Homo sapiens: one gene and its partner. The protein of the gene in region 2 purifies or fractionates together with the protein of the main gene of each other region. This does not show direct contact. Each region holds a gene or a part of one and is shown on either strand. Other genes may lie near its edges. The genes, in order: SVIP and DMC1.

Region 1 (16,738 bases), on a different chromosome or scaffold from region 2:
TGGGTATGTTTTACATTTTGAGCACTTTTGAATGGATTGTAAGTAATATAAGGCCTAAATTTTTTTTTTAATCTATAGACTTCAGAGTGTGGAAGCTTCAAGTTTAAGAAAGCCTCTTTCTTTATTATACTTTAAAAGCTGATGTTAATTTCATTAGGTTAGAACTTGTGAAGTGTCTTCTTAATTATGATTAAGTGTTGATTAAATTATCCTTTTCCTATAACATTACGTATGACTTTAACTTAATACCTTCACCACTTCTACTGTGAAATAGTGGATCTCATTATTTCCAGTCCTACAATTTAACTTTTGTAATTTTGTGTTTGTTTTTGACAACCCTATATGAAGTAAACCTAGTGAAACAGCACTTTATCTCAACAGAATATTGAGATATGATAAAGAATTGACCTCGTTATCACCCAACTGTTTTACTTTACACTAGACCTATTCTGTTCTATTATGGAATTATAAAAAACATAAGCAAAATGGTCAGACTTATTTACCTTATATTGAAACTAATTATATATTGCTAAAAGTTCACCATAAAAAAACTTCATAAATTTTCATTCGTTAAATGATATAAGATGAAGTAACGTACAATAGTAAAATACACAGACACACATTCTTATTTCTGTGATATTCTTGAGCCAGAATCAACTGCTCAGGGTGTTCATAAACTGCCTGCCCCACAAGTTACGAGAGTATCTACATGTAGGCAAGTGTATGTGTATATGTCCATGTATATGTATGTGCATGTGTGTGTGTGTGTAGTTTTGAGAGAAAAAAAACCAATAAATCTGTTGAAAGGTACTCATAAATCATTGACAAGTTAAATATAAATGACTGAAATTAAAGACATTGTCCTTTTCACAAATATACTACTATTTACTTTAAAAATGGACCAAGAATAAATTCTTAATATCTGAGCCATTATTTTCCTGAGCTTTAAGGGATTTTAAAAATAAATCCTTTAAAGTCCTGCTAGAGTGTAAAGACTCCAGCATTCAGAGACTCTGCTTAACTTGTCCACCATTATATTCCCAGTGTCTAGCTCTGGGATCCATATCTAGGGAGGTATGTGTATGATACCCACACCTGTATACATTCTGTAATCCAAATTAACATTTACATAACTATAATAAACAGGGGCAATGGAAAGATCAAAGATTCCAAATCAATGCGTAAAAGAGCTCAGGCCATAAAACAGAACTTATAGCGTAATCCAATTTAATAAGATATATAAATGAAGGTTAGAAATTATGTCTGTCAAAATGGTACTTAGTTTGGATGACTTTTACACTTCTTTATACTTCTCCATATTGCTTGAATTTTTGAATTATTTAAGATTAGTAGTAAGCATAAGAGTATTAAAATATATATAGTGTTAAAATAATAAATCTATTATTTCATTTTGGGGAAAAAAGCTAATTGATTCCAATAAATGTTAAAATAAATTGGTATTACTTCCAATATTTACTACTCATGCTTTTAAACTATTTCAAAATTTTCTGATAATACATTTCAGGAGAAAATTATGAATGGATTGCTACTTAAGTTTTTTTAAAATGCCAGTTAAGTTAATCACTAAGAAAATTTTAATACTTACCCTAAGTCCACCTTCTGGTGGGGGCCCGGATGTAGCAATTTGTTTTTCTATTTTTTCCTTTTTCTTTCTCTTTTCTTGCACAGATTGAACATCTAAAATTCCCCGAGATGCAGCCTTGAAGAAATTTGATAAGAAAAACAGAAAGACAACAAAAATCTGTCCAGTGTGCAAAACATTTTTTTGTCTATCTTTGCTTTCTAGGTTTTTCTTTGGGGGTAGGGAGTTGGTTTATTTTTGGTAACATAGAAGGAGTGTTTCTACAACAGCCTTACATAAAACATCATTTCTTCACTGGGTATTTTGTAACTATACAAATTTTCCCCTAAACTTGCTTCACATCTGTAAGTATTTTACAATGCACAGCCATTTTAAAAGGAAGGATGTTACTAAAAGAGTATCTGAATTTAGAGAAGATATGATAGTTTTCATATATTAATATAAATATATTAATGCAATTCATATAAATAAGGAAATCATTTTGAAAATAATTACATTTAAATGTAAATTTTTGGGATATCAAAGGCCATTTGCGTTAGAAAATCTAGCTATGGACATCTATGAAGAATAAAGTCCAAACTCAATTATCTAAGTAGGCAAAACTTGATCTTTAATCTTACCTCTTTTTGTCTTCTCTCTGCAGCCTCTGCAAGCTTTGCTCTTTTCTCTTCCTAAATAAATGTGTAAAAATATGTATTAAAATAACAAACATTATTATTAATAAATTATTCACATTTATTTCATAGGCACTATAACAATTTACAAAAATATTCGGTACTGGCCCTAAATGTCCCACAAAGAATGCCACTACTCAACTTTTTGAATTTCATTCTCCTAATCAATATGCCTTCAAATCAGCACATGCTAAAACAGATACAAGGTTTACCTATATAATCATTTATTTACTCTCTTTTTTAATAAAAAGGCCTACAAGCTAGTCAGGGCAATAACAAAACAAATAATGTTTACAAATACAAAAAGGAAAATACATGGTTTGTTACTGCCGGTTAAAATGGAGTCTGAAGTAACCTGGTGTTTTTAGGAAAGGTTAATAAATGAAGTGGGCTAATCTCAGTGTGTAGGAGGGAAGGACTGGAGTAATTTCATGAGAGGTATTGTTCCATATCAGAAAACAGTGAATGCTATTTTTCTAGACCATGTACTACTTATTATAAAGCCCTTTTTCTAGGTGCTGGGATACAACAGTGTAAAAACATAGATAAATGTCTCCTCCCAAATGAAACAAATTCCAATTGCGGGCGCACAGACAAATATAATGAAGTAAGTAAACGTCTGTCAGATGGCATGGCAGATAAGTAATGGGAGAATGGGTGGGTGGTATTGTGGGGAATATATTTTGTTTAACGTGGTCAGCAAAAGCTTCACTGGTAAAGTGACATCCAAGCAGTGAGCCGTGTGGTTATCAAGGGAAGAGGGTATAGTATGAGGATGGGGGGGAGGGCTTAACAAATCTGACATGTTATATTTTATCGACAGCCAGAACAACAAAATCAACTTAATTTAAAACAACAGCAGCAACAAAGAGAAGCTGAACTTTCCCACATCAAATTTATAAGTACTAAATTTTTAGTATCTATAGTAGCTGAAGAGTTAATGTACTTCCCAAAAATACTTCATTTTCTTCAACTAATTTTTAGCTAGAGAAGAGAAACAGGTTTATGTTAACTCCCTGTAAGGAGTACTAATGTAAAGATACTGTTAACAGAAAGCTACAAAAAGTGTACATGTATTGTACCACACACCCACTAGCTACATTTGAATTTCAGATAAGCAATGAGTAATGTTTTTGTAGAACTAGATCCCTAATATTGCATGGCACAAAACGATATTATAAACGTATTCCTTGTATATCTGAAATTCGAATGTAACTGGGTGTCCAGTATTTTTATTAAATACGACATTATAAATTGGACACTCTGTACTACATATTCTTTTAAAGGGAGAACGTAAAAGAATGAGATAAATACTAAAAAGAAATCATTAAAAAAACATATCCGATAAAGCTCAGGCGTATAAGCGACTTTCCGAGCACCTTCTTTTAAAAGATGGTAGACACAGTTGAAAACGCACATCTCCTAGACGACTAAAGAGCTCCCGGAGAAAGCAATGTCTTTTCGCGCCGAATTCCATCTACCACATCCCCCGGAATGTCCCACGCGTAACGCCCTCTGCGTGCGCCGGCGCCCTATGAAGATCCGGCGCAGCTAAAGTCAGTGGAAGGTAGAAAGACGCCACAGCCGCCTTTCGACAACTTTTTGTTACAAAAGTGGAGATCTACACGGAGGCGACGGCCTAGGTCGCTCTGACAGGACCCAACGACCCTCCTGACGCGTCCACCCGTCCTCGCTAGCAGGGTCCCCCAGCGGGCTCTCGACCTGCGCCACCAGGTACAATGGCTCGGCCCGCCCCGCAACCCGAGGACAGGTGCTCAAGGCGCGGCCCGGCGGACGCAGGGACCTGCTCTACTCACCAGGTCCGGCGTGGGAGGCGCGGACTCCCCGGGACAAGGAAAACACAGCCCCATAGGGACGACAGCTTGAGAACCCTGACCGGGTCCGGCCCAGGCCAGGCGGCGCTAACTGCGCGGTCCGGAGCCGGTCCCTGGTCCTCCGCGCTTGCCCCGCCCCCACCGCCCTCCACTGGCTCGGCTCCGCCCCAGCGGCAACGCCCCGCCCCCACCCCGCAGCTCTGCCCCGCCTCGCCTCTCTGCGGCAACGCCCCCCTCTTCTCGCGACACCAACCAGTCCCACAGCTCAGCTGCGCCCCCTTAAGGCATTGCCCCTTCCTCACCCACAGCTCCGCCTACCCCCGCCCCGCGACCGCTGGGCTTGTGGCCAAAGCCTAGGTTCCAGGAAACACCTGCTGTGGGTAGCAATGCAGGGAAGGGATGGAAAAGCTTCGCTACGGTTCCAAAGCTCTTCCTGCTAACCTTGCCTTACCATTTATAAATGAATGAGTGGTACAGCTCTGGGTAGTTCATGCTACCTTTTTTTATGAGATGGGACTCTGGTGTCCTAGAAATTAAAGCCAAAATTCCAAGTAAACATCAGCACCCTTTTCTCCCTTCTTAGTGACAGTGCTATTCCAGAACAGAGGGCAGAATATAAAATCCATTATTATGACGATGAATCTAGCGTCATAAATGTGGCATTAGTTGACATTTCCACTAGTTTCTGGTATTTAGAAGTCATTTATCCTTCCGAGAGAAATAATAAAGTTTCATCTACTGAGAAATGTTTTAATGATTCTCCTCAAATTTTAATAAGTATGAGAATCAGCTGGGCAACTAGTTAAAATTTACTTGCTGATTTAGTAAGTATAAGGTGGGACCTGAGATTCATTTCCAGTAAACCCACAGGTGATACTAAAGTTACTGATCTCGTCTCCACACAAATGCTTTTATTTTATTTTATTTTATTTTTGCATTCTATTAGTTATTTCTGCTTATGTAAAAATTTTCAAACATTACAAAAAGGTAGGATGTATAGTGACAGCGTCTCAGAAACCATTGTCGGCTTTTTGATATACTTGCTGGTTAATTTTTTATAGATGTATAATTTACATATAATATTATGCACTTATTTTGATTGTAGAGTTCACTGAGTTTTAACAAACATGTGATCACCACATTCAAGATATGTAAGTTTTCCATCACCCAAAAACCTTCTATTGTACCCAATCCCATTCAATACTTTATCCTATACCTAGATCCAGGAAACTATTAATTTGTTTAATATCACTTTAGTCTTTAAGTTTTGCATAAATGTTAATATCACTATAGTCTTTAAGTTTTACATAAATGAAATATACAATATGTTTTGCAAAAGCCATAATATTTTCTAAATTCTTCCATGTTATTGAATGAAACAGTAGTTTATTCCTTAAATAATAGGGGATGATGCTTTTTTAATACTATTATTCGATTGCATGGGCCGTTTCTAAGGGTAAATAAAAATATATAAAGAAAAAGTGAAGGTTCTCTGTTGCAAAAAGAGAAAGATAACTACCCACCTCCTCTTTAGCATTGTGTTTAGAAAACGTGAAATTGTAAGCGCTATCTCTGTCTCACTGAAATGTATGAAAAAAAAAAAAAGGCCAGGCATGGTGGCTTACTCCTGTACTTTTGGAGGCCAAGGTGGGTGGATCACCTGAGGTCAGGAGTTTAAGACCAGCCTGACCAACGTGGGGAAACCCTTTCTCTATTAAAAATACAAAACTTCGCCAGGCATGGTGGTGGGCGCCTGTAATCCCAGCTACTCCGGAGGCTGAGCAGGGAGAATCGTTTGAACCCGGGAGGCGGAGGTTGCAGTGAGCCGAGCTCGCGCCACTGCACTCCAGCCTGCACAACAGAGAGAGATTGCGTCGAAAGAAAAGAAAGAGAGGAGGGGAGGGGAGGGGAGGGGAGGGCAGGGGAGGCTAAATAAGCCTCTTGCCAGTTTTGCATCAGAAAGAAAGAACCTAAATAAGCCTCTTGCCAGTTTTGTATCCTCAGAATATCTTTGGAGGCCTATTGGCTTTCTCTTAGAAATGAAAACATCCCAGAGTGGCACCTGTCTCCCCGTCTTCATGGTAGTTTACTGTCTAGGCACTTGGCTTCAAGATGGAGCTTTCTGCTTGTCAAGAGATACAAGTGTTATTCTTTCCTTTAGATTTCTTTTAGATAAAAACAATTAACATGTGTGTAGTGGACTGTATCTGACAGGCTATATAAAAATGGTGAAGAATGTTTTCATTGCAAACTCTTTAGTAGATTGCTTCTGATAGAAATCACAATCGATTTAATGCTTATTCAATGATAAAACTGTTTCTTTTCTGCATTTGTGGAGAGTTTCCTGCATTGGCAGATTTTGTTTTTAATTATTATCAAAACACTTTCCATGACATAATTATTTCCCCAACACTTTCCATGGTTTATTGATTTTTATTTTTAATAAACATTATTGAGATATAAAATACAATTAACACATCTACTTTAGGTGTACAGTAGTGCCTTCCATTCCTGGTTTTGATAAAGTTTCAGTTTATTTATTCAACATTAATATCACTATAATCTGTAAGTTTTACATAAATGAAATATACAATATATGTTTTGCACATGTATTGTCAACTGCATGGTCAACTGAGGTCCAAAAATATTAAATGGAAAATTCCAGAAATAATTTGTAAATTATAAATTGCTTGCCTTCTAAGTATCTGATCAAATCTTAGGCTGTCCTAATCCATCACACACAGGATGTGAATGATGTGAATCATCCCTTTGTACAGCGTATCCACAGTGTCTAAGCCACCCCGCCCATTAGTCACTTAGTAGCTATCTCAGTTGTCACATTAACTGTTGGTATTACAGTGCTGGTGTTCAAATAACCCTTATTTTACATATTAATGACCCAAAGTGCAAAATTAGTGATAATGGCATATTGTTATAATTGTTTTATTATTAGTTGTTAATCTGTTACTGCACCTAATTTATAAATTAAACTTTATCATGGGTATTACGTATAGAAAAAAACAGTGCAGATACAGTCACTGACCAAGATGGCCTAATGTTTCCTGCTGCCTGACTAACCTTTAGACAGGGTTCTTCCTGATTGTTGGCCTCTGACCTCCCTATTTTTAGACCATTCACTTTAAAAAAAACTTGCAAAGTGTACATTTTCTCTGCTCCTTTAAGATGTAAATCTTCTGGCCTCTTATCAGTTCTACAATGCAGAACCATCTTTCTCAAAAACCTGGGTGTCATCTCTTTGAAATTCAATAATTAAGAAAGGTAGAACCTTTTTTTATCTCCTAATCTCTGTGGGAGAGTAGGAGCCTGACTTCCCTAAGCACCAATCAGCAAACACAGATGGTCTAACCCTATTGACCAACATACAGTACTTTTCCACTTAGGGACTTCTGTGCTTAAAATCTCTCCTGCTTTTTTTTTCAGTGGCATTGAGCCCTCTTTCTGTGCCTTATTACAGTGGTCTTAAATAAAGTCTTTTGTTGCTGTTTAACTCTGTCAGGTGCAAATTGTCTTGGATATTAGTTGAGTTTTTGACAATTATATGTGCTCTTGTAAACACCATAAGAAGGTATACAACATTTCCATTACTCTAAAAGTTTTCCTTGTGCCACTTTCCAAACAATCCCCCATTGACCTCTAGCCCACGACAAATATTGATTTGCTTTCTGTCTCTATTAATTAACTACACACTTTCTAAAATTTCATAGAAATGGAAATATATCGTAAGTGCTTCTTTTGTCTGGCTCTGCTCCTTCTACATAAAGTTTCTGAAATTCATCAGTGTTACTGTGTCTGCTTCTTAATATTACATTGTTATAAGTATGCTACATTTAAAAAGTTAATTTACCAGGGGGCACAGTGGCTCTTGCCTGTAGTATCAGCTATTCAGGAGGCTGAAGACGTAGGATCACTCAAGCCCAGGAGGTTGAGACCAGCCTGGGCAACATGGGGAGACCCCATCTCTACAAAACATAACAAAAAATAGCTGAGCACAGTGGTGTGTGCCTGTAGTCTCAGTGACTGGGGAGGCTGAGGGTGGAGAAACACATGAGCCCAAGGAAGTCGAATGGAGAGACCTCATCTCTACAAAAAATACAAAAAATAGCTGAGCACGGTGGTGTGTGCCTGTAGTCCCAGTGACTGGGGAGGCTGAGGGTGGAGAAACACATGAGCCCAAGGAAGTCGAGGCTGGAGTGAACCATGATTGCACCACTGCACTCCAGCCCGGGCAATGGAGTGAGACCCCATCTCAAAACAAACAAACAATAACAACAACCCCCCAAAACCCCCAAAATGTCAATTTACCTATTCATGGATGTATGGGCTCCTTTGAGTCTTTTCAGGCCATTATGAACAAAGCTCCGTGAATATTTGTGTGCAGTTATTTGTGTGAAGTTTTTTTTGTCTTGACTACCTAAAAATGGAATAACTTATTTATATTTTACATGTATGGAAATGAGGACTGAACTCTTAATTTTTTTATCTTGCCCAAATCCCTATCTAAGGGGTCTGGGGAGTCATGCCCTACAAATCATAAATTCTCATCAGATGGATTTTATTTAACCCCGTATATCATGATTTACTTTCCAACCTAACTCTGGCATAACATTACAAGACAAAGAAGAAAATTAAAATATGTTACCCAAAAACATGTTTCTTTGCCATATTTTGAAATGACCCTCCAAAGCGTTTCTTTGTGGGGGAAAATGTGCAGCTGTAAAGAATCTCTATTAACATACCTAGATTTTTTTCTTCCAGACCCTCCCAATCCTAAAGAGATTAACTAAGAGCTGAATAGGAAACATTGGGCACCTGTTGCCTCTAAGGGCAGCCACTATAAGACTTCAAAAGAACTTTGGTCTCCACAATCTTTATCTGAACCTGAACATTCCCTTTCTATCTATCCCAGGTCTTCAGACAAACTCAACCAATTGTCAACCAGAAAAATGTTTAAATTTACCTATAGCCTGGAAGCTCCTGCTTTGAGTTGTTCTGCCTTTCTGGACCAAACCAATGTACTTCTTAAATGTATTTGATTGATGTCTCATGCTCTCTAAAATGCATAAAACCAAGCTGCGCTGAACCACCTCGGGTTCTCAGGACTTGCTGAGGGCTGTGTCACGGGCCATGGTCACTCATATTTGGCTCAGAATAAATCTCTTCAAATATTTTACAGAGTTCCACTCTTTTTGTCGACAATAATATGGCGCCCAAACACGTGGGGCCTCAGAGAAGACTCTGGATCCGGAAGGAGTATCCCAAAACCAGAGCTAAGGTACCAGCTGGAGCCCACTGAAGCCTCACCGAGTTTGGGCTTCTCCTCCTGTGGAACTGGTAAGTCCTCCTGAGCCTCGGACCTCCTGTTTTGGTTGATAGTCCTTGATGTATTCTGAGCTGTTTTATTCTCCTAGGAATTTGTTGCTTTAGGATCCCAATTCGAGTTCAAAGATGCATTTCTAAAGGGTCTCCTCAATTGCTTTTCTCTCAGAATTAATCTCAATTTGGCTTGTTTGTGCATATTTGAGTGAGGAACTGAACTGTCATTTTCATCCACGACTCATCAGTTCCTCCTTTAAAAAAAAAAAAAAAAAAAAAAGTAGGGGCCGGGCGCGGTGGCTCACGCCTGTAATCCCAGCTCTTTGGGAGGCCGAGGCTTGTGGATCACGAGGTCAGGAGATCGAGACCATCCTGGCTAACACGGTGAAACCCCGTCTCTACTAAAAATACAAAAAATTAGCCGGGCGTCATGGCGGGTGCCTGTAGTCCCAGCTAGTTGCGAGGCTGAGGCGGGAGAATGGCGTGAACCCGGGAGGCGGAGCTTGCAGTGAGCCGAGATCGCGCCACTGTGCTCCAGCCTGGGCGACAGAGCAAGACTCCGTCTCAAAAAAAAAAAAAAAGTAGGAAAGAAATTAACTAAGAATATGGAAAAAAAAACAAGGAGAATGACCCCCTTTTGAGCACACCGTAGGTTTTGTGGCACCTCTACTTTCCAGAGTTTATGGAAAATGGAAGTAATATAGTCTTTGTGTACATTTTACTTTAAGGAAAAAGGTGCCTAAGGTCGACCTGCAAACTATAGAGTTCCTAAGTTCTCTTTCTCTATTTTCTGCCTGCTTTAAATCTGGTGTTACTTTCATACTGAGATAAAAAACCACTGTTTGGATCTAACCGTTTTTTTGCAAACCGGCAAATTTATATTCATCTCATGGCCAAAGTACTAAAGTAAATCTATAGGATCTTTGTGTGTGTACGTATATGTATGTATATATGTGTGTATGTATTTGAAGGCCTTCATAAATTCTATAATTTTATGTTTAATTGGAAGTTACATTCATTTTAATTTTCCTTTAGCGTACCAAACTTTTTCTTTTTGTACCTTATTACGTAAATTTTGCTATCTGATTGTCACCTGGGTTGTTTCCTTTAATATGCAAATTTATGTCTATTTAGCTGAAAACTGCTTAGGGTGGTGCAACATGTTATCGAGAATTTGAAAATCTAAAATTGAAAAAAAAAAAAAGGAAAAGGAAGTCTTTATGAATCTATAAAATGTACCTCTATCGGCATGCCTAGATATGTCCATGTATTTATGTTATGCAGTGTTTCACTGCTAAAATATATATATGTAAAGAGTTCCAATTAATTGGCTAAAAAAATAGGTAAAAGTGCTTAAATCAGAGACTTAAAAAAGAAAAGACTAGTCAAATATTTTTTCAGGTTCACATGACTTAAGTAAAATCTTTAATAAATAAGATGGCTTTAAAACTATTGGTAAAATAATATCAACAATGTTAGCATTTTGTTTGCATTTATTGATCAAGTAGTTTCATGTTTATTCCTGCCTAGTGGGCCAGATAATGCCATTGTAAGTTCTCTTTGCCCTGAGAAGGGTTGACTGCCCCACTCTTCCTATAAAATACCAAGTGAAGTACACCAGATGAAGCAGTTAATATGTTTCATATGCAAGCCATGTTGGACTAGCTTTATAACTGGGATATCCTCCTGCCAAATATGCATATTACCTAGGTCATGGTAAATTTGGGGGTTAGGGGACCCCCTTTACGTGGGTGCTCCTCTGACAGAATGACAGGACTATTTAAGTAGACTTATCAAATCTGCGGTCCCTCATAGGTCTTATAGATGTAACTCCCTGCTGGGAAACCAAATCCTTTTCACCAGAAAAGGTAAAATGGTCTGGGGGTAAAAAAGGGTTCCTGAGACCTGAACATAAAAACATACAGTTTAATAGAATTATAAAATTTAAGATGTTTAAACAAGCTTTATGTAAGGTAGTTGTAACCCCCTTTTACCAAAAAGTCTTATGAAAATGGGTACTGTATCTAACTGGGGGTTGTTTTTCTCTTTTCTAGTACTATAAAAACTGAAGACATATAAATCGGCTCTTTAGGAAATGTTATTTAAACATTTATTAAATTTATTTATTTAAAAATGTTATTTAAACACACTAAATAGGAACTAGTAAAAGCCCACAAAATATAGGGTAAAGCTTTCCTTTGCTGCATAGCCCTTTATGTGGAGCTTTTATCGGGGCTGATGGAAAAAACTGTGAGTACCTTTCAATGACAATGACCGAACTAGAGAATTTCTACTTGATAGGGCATTTACTGCCTTGCTATGAGATATTAACTGAAGCTACCCCTATGCTAATGGAAATTATGTTTCCCAAAAGAGTCCTATGATAAAATAAAAATGGCTTACACAAAATCTTGCTACTTAATAAGCAGAGAGCCTCTTTTCTAGGACTAATTGTGAGGAGCTGCTAAATTCTACAGTGCCTAATAGTTCTCATTAGCTGTTTGGTTTGTAAATGGCATTTCCCAGGTAAACAAACACTTGTTTTAAAAGCTGCGGCTCTGGTTAAAGAAGGGTCAAAAAAAAAAAAATCTTTTAAGTTATTTGGATAAAGTACATTTTTGTAAGCAAACTTACCTTTCTGAGTCCTCCAAAATTCAGATTGAATTTTATGACAATATAGTTGTCTGCCTAAGTTCAATTATAGTTTTTTTTTTCTTCAAACAATTGGAGACACTGGTTATTTTACCAAGACTGAAACTAAAATATTCTATTTTTAGGTAAACTTTCAGCAAAACCAACTCGAAAGGAGTCTATATGGCCAATCAATTCTTGCTGCATTTTATGCAGCTATTCAGGCAAGCATAATAAGCCTAAAACTTACCTTGCACGCAAATTGGCCTTGCTATAACTTTTTGTTTAATAAAAAGGGCAGCTAGAAAAAATGTTTCAAGGGTAAAGCGTAACACTTAATACTAGATTTCAGCCCTAACTTTTTGAGTACAGATTAAATCATTATTTCTTGGCTACAAGAATCCTCTAGAAAGCACCAAGTTATAATTTTTCTTCATATTTTTAGTTGGTACCCTAATGTAATAGGTTCCTTTTTCTATTCTGATCTATGAATTACTCCTATAATTGTCAAACTATAAATGTTAATTATCTCTCCTTGTTTTACATCCAAGGAAACCAAAATCATGGTATTTTGAAAACCAGAGGTATGAATCTCCCTCGTTTGGCATCCCACTGGGCCTGGACCTGTTTCACTGCTAATGTTCTGCTGCCAAAACTATACAAGCTGCCTGGACTATTGCAGAAGAGGTGGGTGCATAAGATTGTAAGGACCGGCTTTCAGGGAAAAAATTAGCTTAAGGTCAAACCCTCCAAATCAAGAAAGGGGGTACAAAAATGCCTAAACAGCAGGTAAAACAAGTTTAGTTGCCTTCTAAGCTATTATGTGTCACTTTTGCATCCACCCCAACCATAAAAATTTTCTGCTTACTATAGAATTAAAGGAAATTCTTTACTAACAGGATAAAAATATTTTGTAACAAAGCCTCCTGGGTATAATACTACCAATCATGAGTTGTGAAGATCGATCGATCTATCTATCTATCTATCTATCTATCTATCTATGTAACTATATTTTTCAGAAGAATGCTTATGTTTGGTATATAAGGCTAACTGTTACAAGTCTGTAACAAAAACCAAGCTCACAGTAGCTCAACACATAGAAGTTAAAAATAAGTCCGTCTTTTAACTTTTGTTTTGTTTTGTTTTGTTGTTGGCTTTTTTACTTAAAATAATAATTTTACGAAGTAACAAGTGCCTGTCCACATCCATTCCTATATGGCTTAGAACAATTAATTGGCTATATGTCCTTTGTCTCTTAAGGCCCTTGGCCATAGGGAGTCCTGCCAAGGGACAAAAACAACAACAACAACAACAACAACAAAAACACAAAAAACCACTGTAGAATTATTTGACTTCTCCTGTGACAAAACTTCCTCTTCTCTCCCAAATACCAGTCAGTATATGGTGCAATACAAAAATGGTAGGAAAAATAGATTTGTCTACTGTTAACAAGTTTATAACAATTTAGACACTGAGGACCAGGCATTCCTTGCATTTGATTTATACCCTTCTCAGGATGTTATACCTATGGAGATAAATTGGCCAGAAGAGAGACTATTTATTAAAATCTTCAAATAAGATTTATCATAAGGTTCAAATGACCCTGGATAAGGAGGGTAAACACATTGTGAGTCTGATCAAAGCATATGATGGTGCATGTAGTGACGTTTTTGGCTGCTTAGGTTGTTTACTGTCCTCTGACTCTACCTATAACATGTTTGGATGCCTACTTTCACTATCTTTATGATATTTTATGTTATGAAGGCAGCTCCTTTCCTTAAACCTCATGAATCATCCTCTACTACCTTTTAACTTTTCTTTTGCAGCTACCTCACCTCTCTTAGCTTTCTTAGAATTGATGAGTTAGGACCTTGCTCTGGATAGGCTTTGGTGTAAAGGAATATTGTTGCTTGTTTGGTCTTCTATCCAGACCACTAAAACCTTTTCTGTATCAGCAATAAGACTGGTTCACTTTCTTATCATTTGTGTCTTCACCGAAGTAGCACTTTTAATTTCCTTTAAAACCTTTGCATTCACAACTTGGCTTATTCTTTGGTGCAAGAGGCATAGCTTTTGACCTTTGTAATCTTTCACAATGCCTTCCTCACTAAGATTAATAATTTTTTTTATTTTTGATTTAAAGTGAGTCATTAGCTTTTTATTTCATGTGAATACTTAGAAACCATTGTAGGGATATTAATTGGTCTAATTTCAATATTGTTTTCTCTCAGTTAATAGGAAGGTTGTGAAAAGAGGGAGTGAGATTGAGGAATGGCTGGTCAGTAGGGCAGTCAACACATACATTTATTGATTAAATTCATCATCTTAAGTGGGTATGGTTCATGGCACCTGAAAACATTTATAACAGTATTATGAAAGATCATTGATTGCAGGTCACCATAACTAATATAATGAAGAAGTTTGAAATATTGTGAGAATTATCAGAATGTGACACAGAGACAAGAGGTGAGCACATGCTCTTGGGAAAATGGTGTTGATAGACTTACTTGATGCAAGGTTCCCACAGACCTTCAATTTGTAACAAAAACAATATCTGCTAGGCACAATAAAGTGAAGCACAATAAATGAGGTATGCCTATATGAACAATTATAGGTTAAAAATAAAAGGATTGAATAATAGTGTGCAAACATGAATCTTAAAAAATGTGAAATGAGTATATTACTAGAACATATAATAGTCCAGAATAAATCATATTATCAGGTATACAGATGAACACGTATAATAAAAAGGTCAGTTTATCACAAAGGCATAATAATCATAAATATATACACCCAACAACAAAGCAAAATATATCCAGCAAAATCTTCCAGAACTCAAAGAGCAAATAGACAAATTTACATTATACTTGGAAAATAAACATTCCTCTCTCGTAAGCTGACGCAACAAAAAGAAAATAAGTAAAAATACAGAAGACTTAACATTATTATACAATTTGACCTGATTGACATTTATAAAATATTTCACTCAATGTCAACAGAACACATACTGTCTCAAGTGCACCTTGCAACACAAAAACAAGACCTTCTACTGAGTCATAAAGTAAGTTTTAGTAAATTTCACAGGATTAAAGTTATACAGAATATGTTCTTTGGCCAAAATGAAATTAATGAAAAAATCAATCGCACAGATACATCTGGAAAGTTGCTAACATTTGGAAATTAAACAAGGATGTGAATAATGCATGGGTCAAAGAAGAACTCACAATGGAAGTTAGAAAATACTTTGTAATGAATAAAAATTCAGTATAAAATGCACTTTATATTTGTGAATACAGCTAAAATGTGCTTAAAAGAACAGGTATAGCTCTTCTCAATGAGAAAAAAAGATATAAAATTGAACTTGTGTTGTATGTTATGAAAATAGGAAAAGAAGAGTAAATTAAGCCAAATTAAGTAGAAGGAAGGAACTATGAAAATGTGACTAGAAATAATGAACTAGAAACAACAGAAGAAATAAATGAAACTCTAAATTATATACATATATATATATATATATATATATATATTTTTTTTTTTTTTTTTTTTTTTTTTTTGATGGAGTTTCACTCCGTCGCCAGGCTAGAGTGCAGTGGCACAATCTCTACTCGCTGCAACCTCTGACTCCCTGGTTCAAGCGATTTTTCTGCCTCAGCCTCCCGAGTAGCTGGGATTACAGGCATGTGCCACCATGCCCAGCTAATTTTTGTATTTTTAGTAGAGATAAGGTTTCACCATGTTGGCCAGGATGGTCTTGATCTCCTCACCTCGTGATGTTCCTGCCTCGGCCTCCCAAAGTGCTGGGATTACAGGCATGAGCCACCGTGCCCAGCTTTAAATTATATTTTTAAAGATCAATACAATTAATAAACTCTAGATGGAGTGATCAAAAAGAAAAGACACAGATAACCATTAGCAGAAATGTTGGAAGTGATCAAAATTGAAAATCTGAACAAATATATATTTGAAATATATGTATAATTGAAATATATATATTTACATATATAATTTGAAATATATATAATTGAAATATATATTTACATATATAATTTGAAATATATATATTATTTATATATATAAATGAATTTGTAATTAAAAATCTTTCTATAAGCAATTCTCCAGTCCCAGATGGGTACACTGGTGTTTTCTACCAAACATTTAAGAAATTACACCCATCTCATACAAATATTTTCAGAAAACAGAGGCAGAAGGAATATGCCCCAATTCATCTTATGAAGCAGTTTTAAGATATACCTGGGATTTTGTTTAATCAGGTATGGTAAGACATACAGACATGAAAATGTTGGTCATGAAGGAAGATGCTTTTATGGTAGTCACATCACAGTCGTGAATAACTAATAGGCATGTCGTGCTGTTAAGGGCCACTCAGGGAAGCACAGAGACAGAATGGCAGACAGAAAGAGGACTGGAGGGTGACTATTGTGGTTTTCCTGGGAAAAAAATGGGAGAAGAAAAGTAAGCAAGTTAAACAAGTTGAATATTAAATAGTTTGAATAACTTGTATAATTCAGTGAGGTCTCAGCTATAGGTTGGTCCCTAGTTGTTAGGCCCTGATCCTGGGGTGACTAAACCGGAGGGACAGTGTCACAGATTGCTCACAAGCAAATTGTTTACTGTCTCTAAGAAGTAACCCTGTAAAAAGC
Region 2 (16,501 bases):
CCAAAGTGCTGGGATTATAGACATGAGCCATCATGCCCGGCTTCAGTTTTTAATATACTGAAAAACATATGAAAAACAGGTATTAGGAAAATCCAGTGATTGTCATTATGGTCAGGTTATCTCACATAAACCAAATATTATGGAGGACATGTCAGAATAGTAAATGTCAAAGATGTTGTAGGTAATGCTAGCAGTTAGAAGAGTAACTGTCAGATTCTGACAGCATACATTTAATTGGTAGCCCAATGTTGTAGTGCATTTAAAGCTCTGAATAAGAAAAGGCCTAAATTTAAGTCATGATCTCATTCATTCATTAAATGCAACACATATTAATTGTGTTAATTGTGCTAAGACCTGGTAGGGGCACTTTAAAAACCTTGTATGTAGTCTATTAACATGATTTTTTGGGATGTGATCACAGGTCAGACAAAAATTTAAGATATATAGATAATCCAATACATTTACATTTACATAGTTTAAGAGAGCAATTTAAATGTAAATTGAAACAATGTTGGAAGTTATCCACAAATTTAGTGAGGGCTGCAGACTTCAATAAGGAAAAGAAAAATCTAGATAGTGTACCTGCACAACTTAAATCTAAAGGACATGGGCTAAGCGATCAACCCATTTGGAGGGAATACACTTGGAAATCTTATAGGCCCAGCAACTATTTTTTTCTTCAACTTTTATTTTAAATTCAGGGGTACATGTGCCAGATATGCAGGTTTGTTACATAGGTAAACGTGTGCCATGGTGGTTGGGCTAGCAACTATTAAAGAAAGCTTTATTTGTCCCTCTTCTTCCTGAGAAAAATTACCCTGGAAAGCTATACCTCTGGAAAATCCCAGACAAAATTCCTGGTTGATATGTAATCTCAATCAGCTGAAAAGGTAACCCCAAAATTTACCTGTGAGGATACCCCAAATTATTTGGGATAGCACAATTGTTTCCTTTTTGAGACTCAGGAAAATTTAGAATTAAGTGTAGAAATAGTGTTTTTAAATATAGGGAGATTTAAAAATAGAGACACAAATCAAACCCATAGATTACTATTTTCATATTAAATTTGGCAATATGGGCATGGTGGCTCATGTCTGTAATCTTAGCACTTTGGGAGGCCGAGGGAGGTGGATCGCTCGAGCCTGGGAGTTCAAGACCAGCCTGGATAACATGGCGAAACCCAGTCTCTACAGAAAATACCAAAATTAGCCAGGTATGCTGGCCTGTGCCTGCAGTCCCATCTACTCAGGCTGCAGTGAGCCGTGATGGAGCCACTGCATTTTAGCCTGGGTGACAGAGTGAGACCGTGTCTCAAAAAATAAAATAGAATATAAATAAATAAATTTGGTAATAACCTGTGCATATTTGCTATTTGAGACCTTTTAACGTTTAAGATAATTTGACCTTTTTGTAATGGATTGGCCTCTGACTGATTAAATGGTACATTCCTTCAATTTTCAAGTTGATAACTAATTTTATAAATAGTATTTGAACATTTAATGGTGCCTACAACTCACTATACTTCTAAATTTATTTGAGTTACAAAAGATATTTAGGTAATTGGGAAGATTTTGCTGTTAATAATTAGATAATTAGACAAAGTTCTTTTTTTTTTTTTTTTTTTTTTTTGAGACGGAGTCTCACTCTGTCGCCCAGGCTGGAATGCAGTGGCGTGATCTTGGCTCACTGCAACCTCTGCCTCCTGGATTCAAGCAATTCTCTGCATCAGCCTCCTGAGTAGCTGGGATTACAGGCACCCGCCACCATGCCCGGCTAATTTTTGTATTTTTAGTAGAGACAGGGTGATCCTGTCTTTAGTAGAGACCTTGTGATCCACCCGCCTCAGCCTCCCAAAGTGTTGGGATTACAGGTGTGAGCCAGTGCACCTGGCCAACAAATAAAGTTCTTAAAGAAAATACAATACACTAAATGTATAAACATAATTAAAATGTTTAAGAGAATTTAATCTTGTTATAAAAGCACCCTTAAAATGTGCTAGATTTATAAAGGGACTTAAAGCTTAAGGAAAAATGTATAATATTTTAATTAATTAAATATTAATTTTTAAAAACCTAGCTCCTGGCTGGGCGCAGTGGCTCACATCTGTAATCCCAGTACTTTGGGAGGCCGAGGCAAGTGGATCATCTGAGGTCAGGAGTTCGAGGCCAGCCTGGCCAACATGGTGAAACTCTGTCTCTACTAAAAATACAAAAATTAGCCCGGTGTGGTGGCACACACCTGTAGTCCCAGCTACTCAGGAGGCTGAGGCAGGAGAATTGCTTGAACCCAGGAGGCGGAGGTTGCAGTGAGCCGAGATCATGCCACTGCACTCCAGCCTGGGCGACACAGCAAGACTCTGTCTCAAAAGCAAACAAACAACAAAAAAAAACCTAGCTCCTGAATGATCTTTTCTGTTCTCAAGAGCAAACATCAAGGGCACCAGAAAACTCACAATAACAGTAATTATTTCTTTAGCCCAGTGGTTCTTAGACCACCATGTGGTAGAGTAACTAAAGAAAATCAGATTGTCATTTGAATCAAGTGTTTTGTTGATCAACCTCATTTTGACCAATTTGCCTAGGGGTAGGATTTCTCCAAGCCTCTTCCTTAACTTTACTTGAAAAAAGGGTATGTGATTTTAAAAGTCTGGGACAATGCTGGGTTAAACAGGTATTTTCTTTTTCTTTTTTTCTTTTGAGACTGAGTCTCACTCTATTGCCCAGGCTGGAGTGCAGTGGCACGATCTCGGCTCACCACAACCTCCATCTCCCAGGTTCAAGCGATTCTCCTGCCTCAGCCTCCCGAGTAGCTGTGACCACAGGCACATGCCACCATGCCCGGCTAATTTTTTGTATTTTTAGTAGAGACGGGGTTTCTCCATGTTGGTTAGGCTGGTCTCGAACTCCTGATCTCAAGTGATCCACCCGCCTCGGCCTCCCAAAACGCTGGGATTAAAGGTGTGAGCCACCGTGCCCAGCCATTTTTTTGGTAATTTTTAGTAGAGACAGGGTTTCACCATGTTGGCCAGGCTGGTCTAGAACTCCTGACCTAAGGTGATCCACCCATCTTGGCCTCCCGAAGTGCTGTGATTACAGGTGTGGGCCACCGTGCCCTGCCAAAACAGGTGTTTTGTGTCACTGCAGGATTTCACAGGCTAGTGTGCGCTGTGACTCTTCAAGAAGAATATATAGTATATGGTACTTCTCAAACTTATTCACTATTTGTTTATTCATTCATTTAGTCATTCAACAAATATTTATTGCACACCTAGTTTATGCCAGGGATTGTTTTGTGCACTTGGGATAAACTAGAGAACAAAAGAGACAGAATTTTTTTCTCTCACGAAGTTTACAATCTAGTGAGAGATTAGATAATAAACACAAATAGGCCAGGCGCCGGTAGCTCACACCTGTAATCCCAGCACTTTGGGAGGCTGAAGCGGTGGATCATGGGATCAGGAGTTCAAGACCAGCCTGGCCAAGATGCTGAAACCCTGTCTCTACTAAAAGTACAAAAATTAGCCGGGCGTGGTGGCGGGCACCTGTAATCCCAGCTACTCGGGAGGCTGAGGCAGGTGAATCGCTTGAACCTGGGCAGCAGAGGTTGCAGTGAGCTGAGATCATGCCACTGCACTCCAGCCTGGGTGACAGAGCAAGACTCCGTCTGAAAAAAAAAATAAATAAATAAAATAAAAAATAAACACAAATAAGTAAAATATGTAGTACATCAGATGTTATTAAATGGTATGGATAAAAATAAGGCCAGGAAAGGGGACAAGGAAGACAGAGTATGAAAGTTAGGAGGTTATACTGTCAAATAAAGTGATCAGAGAAGTTCTCATTGAGACATGGACATTTTTGCCAAGACCTGAAAGAGATGACAGCAAGCCATGTAGATCTAAGAGGAAAGAATATGATAGGCAGAGGCAGCACAAAGTGCAAAGGCCCTGATGCAGGAGTGTATCTGACATATTCTGGGAATAGCAAAGAGGTCACTATGGCTGGTACATAGAAAACTAGAAAAGTGAAATATTAGAGATGGGAGAGGACTTTGGCTTCTTTTCTGAGTGAGAGGGGGAATCATCAGGGTGTTATGAGCCACTGCATTCCAGCCTAACCTATGTTTTAAAGTGACCATTCTGGCTCTTTAGTGAATTAAAAAAAAAAACAAAACAGTAGGGGCAAGGTCTCAAGGAGGGAGGTTAATTAGAGGTTATTATAATAATCCAGGGGAGATATTAATAGGTGGTAGTTTAGTCCAGTGAGGTAACAGTAGAGGTGGTAAGAAATAGTTGAATTATATTCTCACTCTCTATGTACACACACACATATACACATAAAAATAACATATATTATATATTAATCTTTTATTATAGAAAATATCAAGCATAAACAAATGTAGAAAAAAAATAATGAACCATCGTGTCTATCACTCAGCTTCAACAATCGTCAACTATGAACTCAGGGTAAATCTTTTTTCATATAGACCACTAACCATTTACCTCCCTTCCCATATTATTTTAAGCATATACTAAGCAACATATCATTTCATTATAAATATTTCAGTATGTATCCCTAAAAGATGAAGATGAAGACTCTCATCTTTAACAACCATATTCCCACTATCACACTTAAATTTAGTAATTCCTTAATTTTTTTTTTTCAGACAAGGTTTCTCTCTGCGTCACCCAGGCTAGAGTGCAGTGGCATGATCGCGGCTCACTAGAGCCTCAACCTCAACCTCCTGGGCTCTAGCAATCCTTCTATCTCACTCAGACTGCTGAGTAGCTAGAACTACAGGTGTGCACCATCACACCCAGCTAATTAATTTTTTTTTTTTTTTGTAGAGACAAGGTCTCAGTTTGCCGTTAGGATGATCTCAAGAGATCCCCTCCCCACCTCCAGCCTTGGCCTCCCAAGGTGCTGGGATTACAGGTGTCACCCACTGCACCCGGCCAGGTGATATGTCTTTTAAATCTCTTTAATCTATAGGTCTTCTCCCTGACTCCATCTCTTTTTTCCTCCTTGTAATTTATTTGTTGAGGAAACTGGGAGGTTTGTTCTGACTAAATATATTTTGAAATTAGAACAGACAGGATTTATTAATGGGTTAGAGTTAGGGTGTGTGAGAGAAAAAAGATGTCAAGGATAACACCCAGGTTTTAGGTCAGAGGATCAGGAAAGAGATAGATCTAAGATGAGGGAGACTTTGGGAGAAGCAGATTTGGGGCAAAGGTCAGAAGTTTGATTTTTGGACCTGTGAAGTCTGAGCTATCAATTAGACGTTCAAGTGGAGGTATATTTGACTATGAAATCCTTTTTTTCTTAATGTATCTTGTGAGGCCAGCATTTTGAGAAATACTTAGAGGAAATACTGCTTTTGTTCTAAATGCTCTTGGGCACTGCTGTAACACATGAAACACTAATTCTTTCTAGTAAGGTAGGGAGAAAAAACCCACATTTTAGTAAACTTGCATTGAGAAGATGATGATATGTCTTGGGGATCATAAAAGAGTAAATAAAAAGGGATGTTAAAACTTCTCCTGCAGAAGAGCAAAAATAACTGCAATATTTCTGAAATATTTAATCTAACAATTGCTTTTTGAGTAAACCCAAAATGTGCAATGAAACATCCTTCATATGGAGAAGGAAAGTAAATGAAAAGTTAAACTGATTTTTAAAAGTGGTTTGAGATTAATATTGGCTGATTCAGAAACTAGATTTTGGGTCTGAATTTCTTGTAAGACATTTAATCTTGCTCCTCCAAGCAGTCTAGAATTTGTTTCAGTTATCATTTAGAAAAAAAAACAAACAAACCCAAACTTCAAATGAAGAAGCTACTTCTACTACTTATAGTAGAAGTAACCAGAAAGAGGAAAAGAAACATGGTATTCCAAAGATTATGCTTAGTGATTATAAAAAAGTAAGATACATACTCAAATTCCTGGCTCCCGGTGGTGATATGGAAAACCATTTTCCTCTTTTCACTATACTCAAATGCAGTCAAGAATCCTGGTTCCTACAGAAAGATAAAAGGAAATGTTCAAAAAGAGTTTAAAGATCATGGTTGTATTTTCAAATGTTGCCCAAAATGATATACTCAGTTATTAAGATCATCATTTGGTATAAGCTACAGTTCACTTGTCCTTGAAGGCAGTACAAGATTATGGTTAGGAACACAGGCTTTAGAGCTGCCCTTTCTAGGTTCAAATCATGTCTCTAATAGTTATTAGTTCTATGATATGGAGTAAACTACTTAATCTTGCTATACATCAGCTTCCTCTTTTGGGTCAAACATGCAACAGTGTTTCTTCAAGGAGTAGCTGTGAAAATTAAATTATATATATATACACACACACACATATGTATACACACATATACATGTACACATATATACACACGTTATATACACATATATACATATATGTGTATACATATACATATATACACATATACATATACATATATACACACATATATACATATACACATATATATACACATATTCCTGGATTCAAGTGATTCTCCTGCCTCAGCCTCCCAAGTAGCTGGGATTACAGGCACTTGCCACCATGCCCGGCTAATTTTTTGTATTTTTAGTAGAGATGGGATTTCACAATGTTGGCCAGGATGGTCTCAAACTCCTGACCTCAGGTGATCCACCTGCCTTGGCCTCCCAAAGTGCTGGGATTACAGGCGTGAGCCACCGTGCCCAGCCAAATGAGATATAATTATGGCATAAAGCAGAGGGTATTTTACTAACAATTCACTTTTTTTCATTCAACAGCATCATTTTTTTTCCAGCTGTAGAAGTTTCAAGGGGCACAGAAATTCCAGTTTTCATTATTCTTGAGACAACATTTTTCACATGGTAGATATACTACTTATTGACTGATTAAAAAGGTACAGCTGATGCAGTGGAGGACTAGTGAAAATGGGCCCCAATGTAGTCTAATGGGTGTCCCTCTTTGTTGTTTTATACTATGACTGTGGTTCTTAAACTTTGGAGAACTTGGAGAATGGGGACAGCCAAGCCCAGGTCCTATCCTACTTGAGTGAGCCAAGTCTGGGCTTCTGTTTTCTTTATTAGCCACACCAGGTGATTCTGATACACATCAGTGTTTAGAACCACCGTATTATGAAATTAACTTCCTTTCTTTCTCTCCTCTCTCTCTGTCTCTCTCTCTCTCTCAATCACTTTCTCTATCTCTAAGAATAAACAACTGGGTGCAGTAGCTCACACCTGTAATCCCAGCACTTTGAGAGGCTGAGGCGGGAGGACTGCTTGATGCCAGCAGTTCAAGACCAGCCTGGCCAATATAGTAAGACCACCCCTCCCCCATCTCCACAAATTTTTTTTTTTTTTTGAGATGGAGTCTCGCTCTGTCGCCCAGGCTGGAGTGCAGTGGCGCGATCTCAGCTCACTGCAAGCTCCACCTCCTGGGTTCACGCCATTCTCCTGACTCAGCCTCCCGAGTAGCTGGGACTACAGGCGCCTGCCACCACACCCGGCTAATATTTTTGTATTTTTAGTAGAGACAGGGTTTCACTGTGTTAGCCAGGATGGTCTCGATCTCCTGACCTCATGATCCGCCTGCCTCGGCCTCCCAAAGTGCTGGGATTACAGGCGTGAGCCACCAGGCCCGGCCTCCACAAAAATTTTTAAAAATTAGCTGGACATGGTAGCATATGCCTGTAGTCCTAGCTACTGAGGAGGCTGAGGTGGGAGGATCGCTTGAGCCTGGGAGGTCAAGGCCACAGTGAACTGTGATTGAGCCACTGTACTCCAGCCAGGGTGATAGAGTGAGACCTTGTCTCAAAAATAAATGAATAAATAAAACTGGGCACAGTGGCATATTCCTGTAGTCCCATGTACTTCAGAAGCAGAGGCAGGAGGATCACTTGAACCCAGGAGTTCAAGCCCAGACTGGGCAACATAGTGAGATACCCTTCTCTCTCTCTCTTTTTTTTTCTTTTGAGACAGAGTCTCGCTGTGTCACCCAGGCTGGAGCGTAGTGGCGTGATCTTGCCTCACTGCAACCTCTGCCTCTCAGTTTCAAGTGATTCTCCTGTCTCAGCCTCCCAAGTAGCTGGGACTACAGGCACCTGCCACCATGCCTGGCTAATTTTTGTATTTTTAGTAGAGACAGGGTTTCACTATGTTGGCCACTATGTTGGTCTTGAACTCCTGACCTCATGATCCGCCCGCCTCAGCCTCCCAAAGTGCTGGGATTACAGGCGTAAGCCACTGCACCTGGCCTGATACCCGTCTCTTAAAAAATACAAATAAAAAAGAATAAACAGTTTAAGCTAAGAAAGGAGAAGATTCTTGGTGCAGTAGTGGGTGCTTGAGAAAGAGAGAGGTTCTTTTCTTTGGTAATAAGATTTAATTTCCAAAGAAAACAACTCTAATGTCATAGAGCAGTTTCCCAAACCCTGAGTACTGCTCCAGGGCTTTCTTCAACACCCTGGCAGTTGTGGAATTGACTTGTGGGTACACTGCCTGAGTGTACTCAGAAGCTAGAGCAACTGAGCTGGGTTCAGAGTGATTCAGTTCGGTTGAGTCCCCTCCAAGTTCAGGATCACACTGCCACTTGCATCACTCTCCTGCCTTGGCTGCCTCTGAAGAAGGAAACCAAATGGCCGTTGGTGAAGAGAGCTTCTCAGACTCACTGGGAATGAGACCCTCACATACCAATAGAGAAATGGAGAGGCCTGCTATTAAATGAAGAGGAAGACTTAGTGACTACCTTTCTTTGCTTTCCTATTTCAAGAGCTGGTACCTCTAGTGATTCCCAAAAGCTCTACATAAAAGCTTGGGTCAAAGGTATATAGGCTTTTGTCTGGCAGCCTGGCAGTTGCAAAGGCCCCTCACAGTCAGTGGGCCCTGCTAGAAAGTAGTAAGGTAGGAGAGGGGATTTGACTCCAGAGGTGGGGCTCAGACACCAGACCAAATTGAGAACTAGCTAAAACAGGGTCCAGGGCAGAAGCAACTTTCCATAAGACATGGCCCACCAATGTGCCATGTCAGTTTACCATTGCTATGGCAACACCTGGAAGTTACTGCCCCTTTCCATTGCAATGACCCAATGACCCAGAAATTACCACTTTTTCTAGAAATTTATGCATAAACTGCCCCTTAATTTGCACGTAATTAAAAGTGGGTATAACTATAATGGCAAAACTGCCTCTGAGCTGCTACTTCTGGGCATACTGCCTATGAGGTAGCCCTGCTCTGCAAGGAGCAGTACCTCTGCTGCACTGTACTGGGCTGCTTCAACAAAAGTTGCTGTCCAACACCACTGGCTCACCTTTGGGCAAAGCCAAGAACCCTCCCAGGTTAAGCCTCAATTTGGGGGCTCACCTGCCCTGCATCAGTATGGGTTAGCTTAGCTCAGCTGCTTCAGTGAGCACATGCTTGGTCATATCTATCTCAACTGCACATATGTAGACCCAACCACTGTTGGTCTTTTTCTAATCCAGTGCTCTCTTATCAATTGGCTATATCAATTGGCTATATATCAATCTCCTATACCAGGAGAGAGCAACTTCTTTGGTACTCAGTGCTTCACAACAGCCATAGGTATGATATTTGAGGAGACAAGACAAAACTGAGGAGGAGAAAGGTAAAAAATAAAAATGAAGGCCGAGCATGGTGGCTCATGCCTGTAATCCCAGCACTTTGGGAGGCCAGGGCAGGCAGATCACGAGGTCAGGAAATTGAGACCATCTTGGCCAACATGGTGAAACCTCGTCTCTACTAAAAATACAAAATTAGCTGGGCGTGGTGCTGTGTGCCTGTAGTCCCAGCTACTCAGGAGGCTGAGGCAGGAGACTCGCTTGAACCCCGGAGGTGGAGGTTGCAGTGAGCTGAGATCACGCCACTGCACTCTGGCCTGGCGACAGAGCAAGACTCTGTCTCAGAAAAAAAAAAAAAAAAGGAAAGGAGAAGGAAAGGCAGAGACAGCCAGAAAAAGTAATATAAAGAGAGACAAAAAGTTTTGGCAAAAATAATTACCTTCATTAGTGTTCCAGGTCTCTTAATCCCTACCTTCATCTTTCAGAAATCAATTGCTGTTGCTTTGAAACTGAAGTGATAAAAAGTTAACATGGGGAGTATAATATACTGTGATCTACAGGAACTCAGTTCCCACAATAATTTCTAGTTTTCATGAGAAAGCCTATAAAGATTCACAAGGCCCTGCCAAGCTAAAACAGCAAAGAATGGATTTTGCTTACAATTAGTTTGTTCGCTGCCTCTTTAATCTTGTCTACTTTGGCTTCTGAGAGTCCTTTGACATTGCATAGAGCTCTTCTTGTTGTCATCTGTATACCTTTGATGGTACAGATTCCTACTGATTTCAGTTTCTTAATGTCAGCCACGTTCTGTAAATTAAAGAATGGGCACAGCAGACTGATAAGATGCCAGCCTGCAAGGCTCCCATACTATGTCATGTGTTTCTGTGTCCATCTCCTTCCACCATGATGCCAATTTTATACAAGCTGCCAGGTGGAACCCACCCACCATGTAGCCAAATGTTCTGGAAATATCTGAGTAGAACATACTCAGCAGGCTGCCAAATGTTCTGACTGTGCCCTGATTTCCCAAGAATGTTAGTGAGACCATGGCAATGTAACAAGGAATTCAAAAGAAAAGCCTGTTGGTGGAAAAGCTAACAAATTTATCACACATTCACCCCCTCAGTTCAGCTCCTTCCTTCTACAGAACTTCATTACCAACATGTTCTTTTAAATTTGTAAAGATTTTTTTTTTCCTCTGCCCCTGGAGAATGCAAATAACTACATCACCAAAGGACCAGGATTTTCTCTTGCTTCTATTTTCTAAAACCACTGAAAGAGATTAAATGTTAGGGCTACAACAGATAATGTCAGCACAGTTTTACTATCAACTGATTGCTGTTGAAATCCACCCAGGTCATTATTCAAAGGCTGGATTTCTGCCAACATCATTTATTCCAGTCGCCTGACATATAGAACTTAATTTTGTCCTCTGGATACACTTGACAATGTCTGGAGACATTTTGATTGTCACAGCTGCAGGGGTGCTACTGACATGCAGTGAGTGAGTAGAGGCCAAGGATGTTGCAAACACCCTACAATGCACAGGACGTCCCCTTGCAACAAAGAATTATCCAGGCCCAAATGTCCATAAGGTTGATGCTGAGAAATCCTGAATCAGACAATTTAACACAGCATTGAAAAACTACTTACAATTCCATGTTTCTGTAACAGGTCAATATCTTGAAACAAAGATTCCTAAAGGAGATGAAACAGAAAAAATGAAGTTTTGATTCTTCATATCCAGCTATTTCACATCTTTTAAAGAGGTAATTCAATACTATGAGTCACTCCAAAATGCCTCAAATTCCGCTTCTCTAGAGATTGAGGAAGGATCAATACCGTTTTTCAAACACAGAAGAAGCACCAACATTGAAAGGGCTGGGAAGCCAGTTACCTTTGTCATGTCCTCCCTAAAATTTTAAAACCTTTACCCAAAGGACTGGAACAACATTTGAACTATTTTAAATATGTTTTCTCAACCCTCTTCCCCTCCAGATCCTAAACTCCTTCCTCTAGGACCAGGCTGCTATTCGGTACCCGTGTGTGTAGGTACCAGTATGGCCATACCAGCTGTTAAGTCATTAAAATACTTTCATACCAGTTGCTAAGTAGCTAATCTTAGCATCCTTGCCAAACAAGTTGTTACATATTTGCAATATATAACTATGTGTTATTTCTACTTTCAGCTTCTAAAAATAGTAGCTAACAGGGAAGGAACTTGATTTTTGCGGAATGATCGAATGTCTATATATCTTTCAACATTTTAGTCATACCTCTTCATCTTGGAATCCTGGTTCTTCCGCCACAACTTGATCCTCCTTCATATTGAAAAGTGGGCAACAGAAAAATAATCACTTCTGGGAAAATAAGAAATATTATGTAAGAAGTAGTCCTTTGTCCAGGGGCCTCTGATTTCATTTCAAAGTCAACAAGGACTAGAAGGACAGTAAGAGAAGCATTTAGCTTGGAAAGATGAGGCCAGCCTATCTTCTTTCTGCGAGACATGTGACATTATTTCTTGTGTGTGTGTGTGTGTGTGTGCATGTGTGTGTGTGTCCCCACATGCACACAGATGCCTGAGGGGCAAATTGGGGGGTGCTTATTTAGTTTCTTCTCTTTCCCCAACAGTGATCACTTATCATCTGGTTTCCATTGCACAGCTAATCATGACTTTATTACTGCCTTGAATGTTATTTAGAATTGCATATTGCTTTTAACCTTTCTTGTTTATGTTTAACAACAATACTCTAGGAACCTTGACATTATATCATTCTTCCTTGTGTCCTCCCTGACACCTCCAACTTTGTCCTCAATAAATGGATTCTATTTTTCTCATCTATGATGAATGCCTTCCTGCCTGCTGATTATGAATGGGTACTCCTGTAACATCCACCTTTTTGTTTCATAGAACATTAGCTATACTTTCTTTCACAGTATTTACTAGTTTCATGATTTTTTTAAGATTTAAAAATATGGTGGTCCGGGTGTGGAGGCTCATGCCTGTAATCCCAGCACTTTGGGAGGCCGAGACAGGCAGATCACGAGGTCAGGAGTTCGAGACCAGCCTGGCCAATCCCCGTCTCTACTAAAAATACAAAAAAATTAGCCGGGCGTGGTGGTGGGCGCCCGTAATCCCACCTACTTGGGAGGCTGAGGCAGGAGAATCGCTTGAACCTGGGAGGCGGAGGTTGCACTGAGCCGAGATCATGCCACTGCACTCCAGCCTGGGCGACAGTGCGAGACTCAGTCTCAAAAAAAAAAAAAAAAATTGGTGGATCATAATATTATATTAAGGCTGATAAGCAGTTAAAGTTTTTAACATTGTAGACTCAAAAAGAAATCTCAGGAATCCACAAGGCGTGATTGTGTTTATTTATTACAATAAAATGCGGTCCAAATCATCATTTTTCTTGGTCGATTCCATTTCCTCATTTGATACCAAAGTCAGGGGTTGGACCCTAGAACAAAGGGAACGAACCATTAATACTAAGGCAGGAGCAGGGTCCTACCACCCAGCACCTCAAACGGCAAAGGATGGAAGGCAACCGAGACCGTTCGGATGGGATCTTCGGGGACACTGTCCTTCAGATGGCTAGCTATGAGTACCCCAATTCCACATTTACTGTCCCCATCGAAGAGAAAAACAGCATTCATTTCTTCTCCCCGTGATGAAATGAAAAGATTGTCCCCCATCTCTCAAGGAGCCGTTGATAGACTGAACCGTTGGATTGAAAGTAGGGCTCCCCAATCCCCCGGTTTAAGACGACCCAGCTGTCCCCTCTGGTGGGGGCAGCAGCGCGGTCGGGTCGCCCTCGACGCCTCCCTCAGCAGGAGGCCTGGGCAGACCCCCTGCGGCCGCCGGACATTTTCCTGACACCGGATTCCCTGGTCAGGAGGATGAGGCGGGCTCTCCTAGACTCAGGTCCGATTCGATTGAAAATGAGGTTGGAAATCCCTCAAGATCACTAAAATTCCTCCCCAAAGGTCGGAGCGGAACGCTCAAAGTCACTAGCCCAGGGACCCCAAAAAAGGAGCGAGAAAGGGAAGCGCGCCTTCTCAAAACGAGCGTCCCCTCAGAGTCTTCGCACGCTGTTCGTTTTTGCCACTTACCCCCCTCGTACCCACAGTCTCCCCGAGATTTTCAAGGTGAAGCCCCTCTGCCCCGCCCGACCTCCTCAGCTGACAGGATTCTAACTCGGGCCTAGAACACGGAGCCTGGAGACCCGCGCGCCGTTGACCACAGGGTTTGGCGCCAAACGAGGAGGGCGGGGCGAGGACCAAGGGGCCGGGGCGGGGCGCAGGGTGAGGGTGGAAGGGCGGGGAGGGAGCAGGCCTACAGAGGGCGACGAGGGGCGGGGAGCAATGGGGGCGGGGCGAAGACCGAAGGGCGGGGAACGAGCGGGCTCACAGGTGGGGGGACCAGAGGGCGTGGCCTGGAGGGGGCTCAGGGCGAGGGGGCGGGGCGAGGGCTGAGGCGCGGAAAACGAAGAGGAGCCCCAGCGGGTGGCGAGCTGGGATGACGGAGGGAGGGAGGGAGGGGCGCTGTGGAAGGAGCGCGCTGAGGAGCGGGGCCTTGAAGGGAGACCGTTGAGCTGGGGCGTCCCTCGAGCTGAGCACCTCGCTAAAGTCCGGGAGAAGACCCTGAGGCGGGGTTCTGAGGAGGTAGCCTTGAGTCGGGGGAGGGGCGATGAGCAGAGGTGGCTGACTTTGGCGATAGGTCTTGGTCGCGAGGGTTGCAGATGGAGCCTTGGCTTAGAAGGTCGAATCCGGGCCCGTTTCCCCCCGCCCCCGCTGCCCATGGCTTCTCTTTTCACCTCCAGGTTTTCATGCTGGCTTCAGAGTTTGGCCGTGCTCCCTCAGCGTTCCTAATTTCCCACTTTCTGACTCTCACCATTTGCCACTCTTGTCTGTGATTGAGACACCCGAGGCCCATTCAGGATGGAGAGTAATTTTTTCTCTGTCTTAACTTGAAGTTTTAAATAGACCACAGACGCCAAGTATATTTTGGTTCAGCTTTTAAATAGAAGTCGCAGGCCAGCCTTCGTGCCAGCAGCGCCATCGCTGGCAGCATCCTCCTCCTCCCCTCACGCGGAGACTGACTTGGGGAGAGTCAGGAAACATTTGAGAGAGCAGCTGCCGAGGTGGAGGCTGTGATGTATCTTGGATGAATCTCTGTGCAAACAGTTCTTTGGGTTCAAGACCTAGTACAGGGCGATCCTTTTTGTTTTTTCTGTCTGAATCATTTTGGTGGAATAAATAGCAAAACATTCCCACAATAGCAGTTGGCATTTTGTGTAGGACGCACCCCCCCAACAGGTGGATTGTTTTAAGAGCCAACAAATAACTGCCATTGTGCTTCCAAATCTGTTATTTTCCCCCAAACACAGTCGTCCTTGTTATATGGAGATGAATGCCCATTTGGGGGAGGAACTGGATAGTGGTGAAAGGCTTTCGCTCTGAGGCCTCACCTAAATAATTATGGGAACTTTTGAGCAACTCGTTAGGTGAAGACATCAACAGTCTACAGAAGAGCTGCAAAGAGCACAGCAAGATGATTTAGGGAAATATAACATATGTAGTTTGGTGTAGTGACAGCTGGGAGAGAGAAATGTTCATAATATTTGAAGGTTGTGTGCAGTACACTTAAAAAAACTAAAATGAGCTGGGTAATGACAAATTCATGAAGGGAGGAGAAAAATCTTATCTGGGTATCATATCGATGGTTAGAGACAACTTTTAAGATATTTAAAACAACAACAAACTCTAGGACAGTTAAAAAGTGCACATGAAGACTTTCCACTAAAATCGGAACCAAAAAAATTGTCTTTCGTATCATACAAAAACTCTGAATATCATGAAGGTGGCATTTCACATCAGTGGAGAAATGATGAATTCAGTGAATAGTGTTAGAACAACTAGGTAACCATCTGGAAGAAAAATAAAATTGGAACCACACTTTACACATTATACCAAAATAAATTCCAGACAGATCAAAAAATTAAATCTGAACAATAAAATAATAAAAGTACTAGAAGAAAATATGGGATATTTAAAATTACTTTGTAATAAGAAACATCTTTTTAAGTATGCTACAAAACTCAGAAGCCATGAAAGATTGTTAAGTATGCTTATATTTAAAAAAATATATCCTGCATGGCAAAATGGTACTTTCCTATCCACAATATAGAACATGGCAAACCAGAGCTTTTGTGTCAATTATTAACTGGATAATATAGCTTGCCTAATTTTTCAAATCCTTCAGGAAGTCCACAATTTCTCTACACAATTTTAAAATTTTGTGTCTTTTTATGATATTTTTAGAAATAAAAAAATAGGCAGTGGGATTATAGTTAAGACCTGAATTTTAAACTATTACACTTTACTGCCCCTCCGTGGACAGTCACCTTATAACCAAATAGAGGCACAGGATTCCAGCGCGTATAGTTGGGCTTCTACAAAGTGATGCTTGCTGATACATATTCTTGAAATTTCAAGAGCTTGAATTTGAGAAATGCTTTAGTAGAGAACTAAAGAATGAAGGCTCATCACGTACAAATTTCACTGGGTAGAATTCCCCTTAAAAATATTTGTTTGTTTTGTTTTGCTTTTTGTTTTTGAGTCAGGGTCTCCCTCTGTCACCCAGGCTAGAGTACAGTGGTAAGTAAGATCTTGGCTCACAGCAGCCTCAATCTCCCGGGCTCAAGCGATCCTCCCACCTCAGCCTCCTGAGTAGCTGGCACTACAGGCACAAGCCACCACACCCAGCTAATTTTTTGGTATTTTTTTTGTAGAGATGTGATTTCACCATGTTGCCCTGGTCTCAAACTTCTGGGCTCAAGTGATCCTCCCATCTCAGCCTCCCAGAGTGCTGGGCTTACAGGCGTGAGCCACTGCATCCAGCAGTGTTCCATTTCTTTATC

Evidence for each region.
Region 1: the proteins of DMC1 (region 2) and SVIP purify together in Homo sapiens (affinity purification with mass spectrometry; 2 studies listed by BioGRID and IntAct, with this or other methods). This does not show direct contact.

The regions. Positions count from the first base shown.
Region 1 is NC_000011.10:22,825,601-22,842,338, forward strand, and holds the start of SVIP (small VCP/p97-interacting protein), read right to left. Parts: upstream 4,202-16,738; 5' UTR 4,149-4,201; coding exon 4,095-4,148; intron 4,012-4,094; exon of another isoform or gene 3,755-4,011; coding exon of another isoform or gene 3,695-3,754; exon of another isoform or gene 3,657-3,694; intron 2,275-3,656; coding exon 2,224-2,274; intron 1,721-2,223; coding exon 1,607-1,720; intron 1-1,606. UniProt on the Homo sapiens protein: Negative regulator of the ER-associated degradation pathway (ERAD) of misfolded proteins. It competes with AMFR/gp78 for binding VCP/p97, and inhibits AMFR/gp78-VCP/p97 complex formation that is required for degradation of ERAD substrates.
Region 2 is NC_000022.11:38,556,352-38,572,852, forward strand, and holds the start of DMC1 (meiotic recombination protein DMC1/LIM15 homolog), read right to left. Parts: upstream 13,833-16,501; 5' UTR 13,692-13,832; intron 13,040-13,691; exon of another isoform or gene 12,724-13,039; intron 12,059-12,723; exon of another isoform or gene 11,939-12,058; 5' UTR 11,906-11,938; coding exon 11,855-11,905; intron 11,277-11,854; coding exon 11,232-11,276; intron 10,386-11,231; coding exon 10,239-10,385; intron 6,019-10,238; coding exon 5,936-6,018; intron 1-5,935. UniProt on the Homo sapiens protein: Participates in meiotic recombination, specifically in homologous strand assimilation, which is required for the resolution of meiotic double-strand breaks.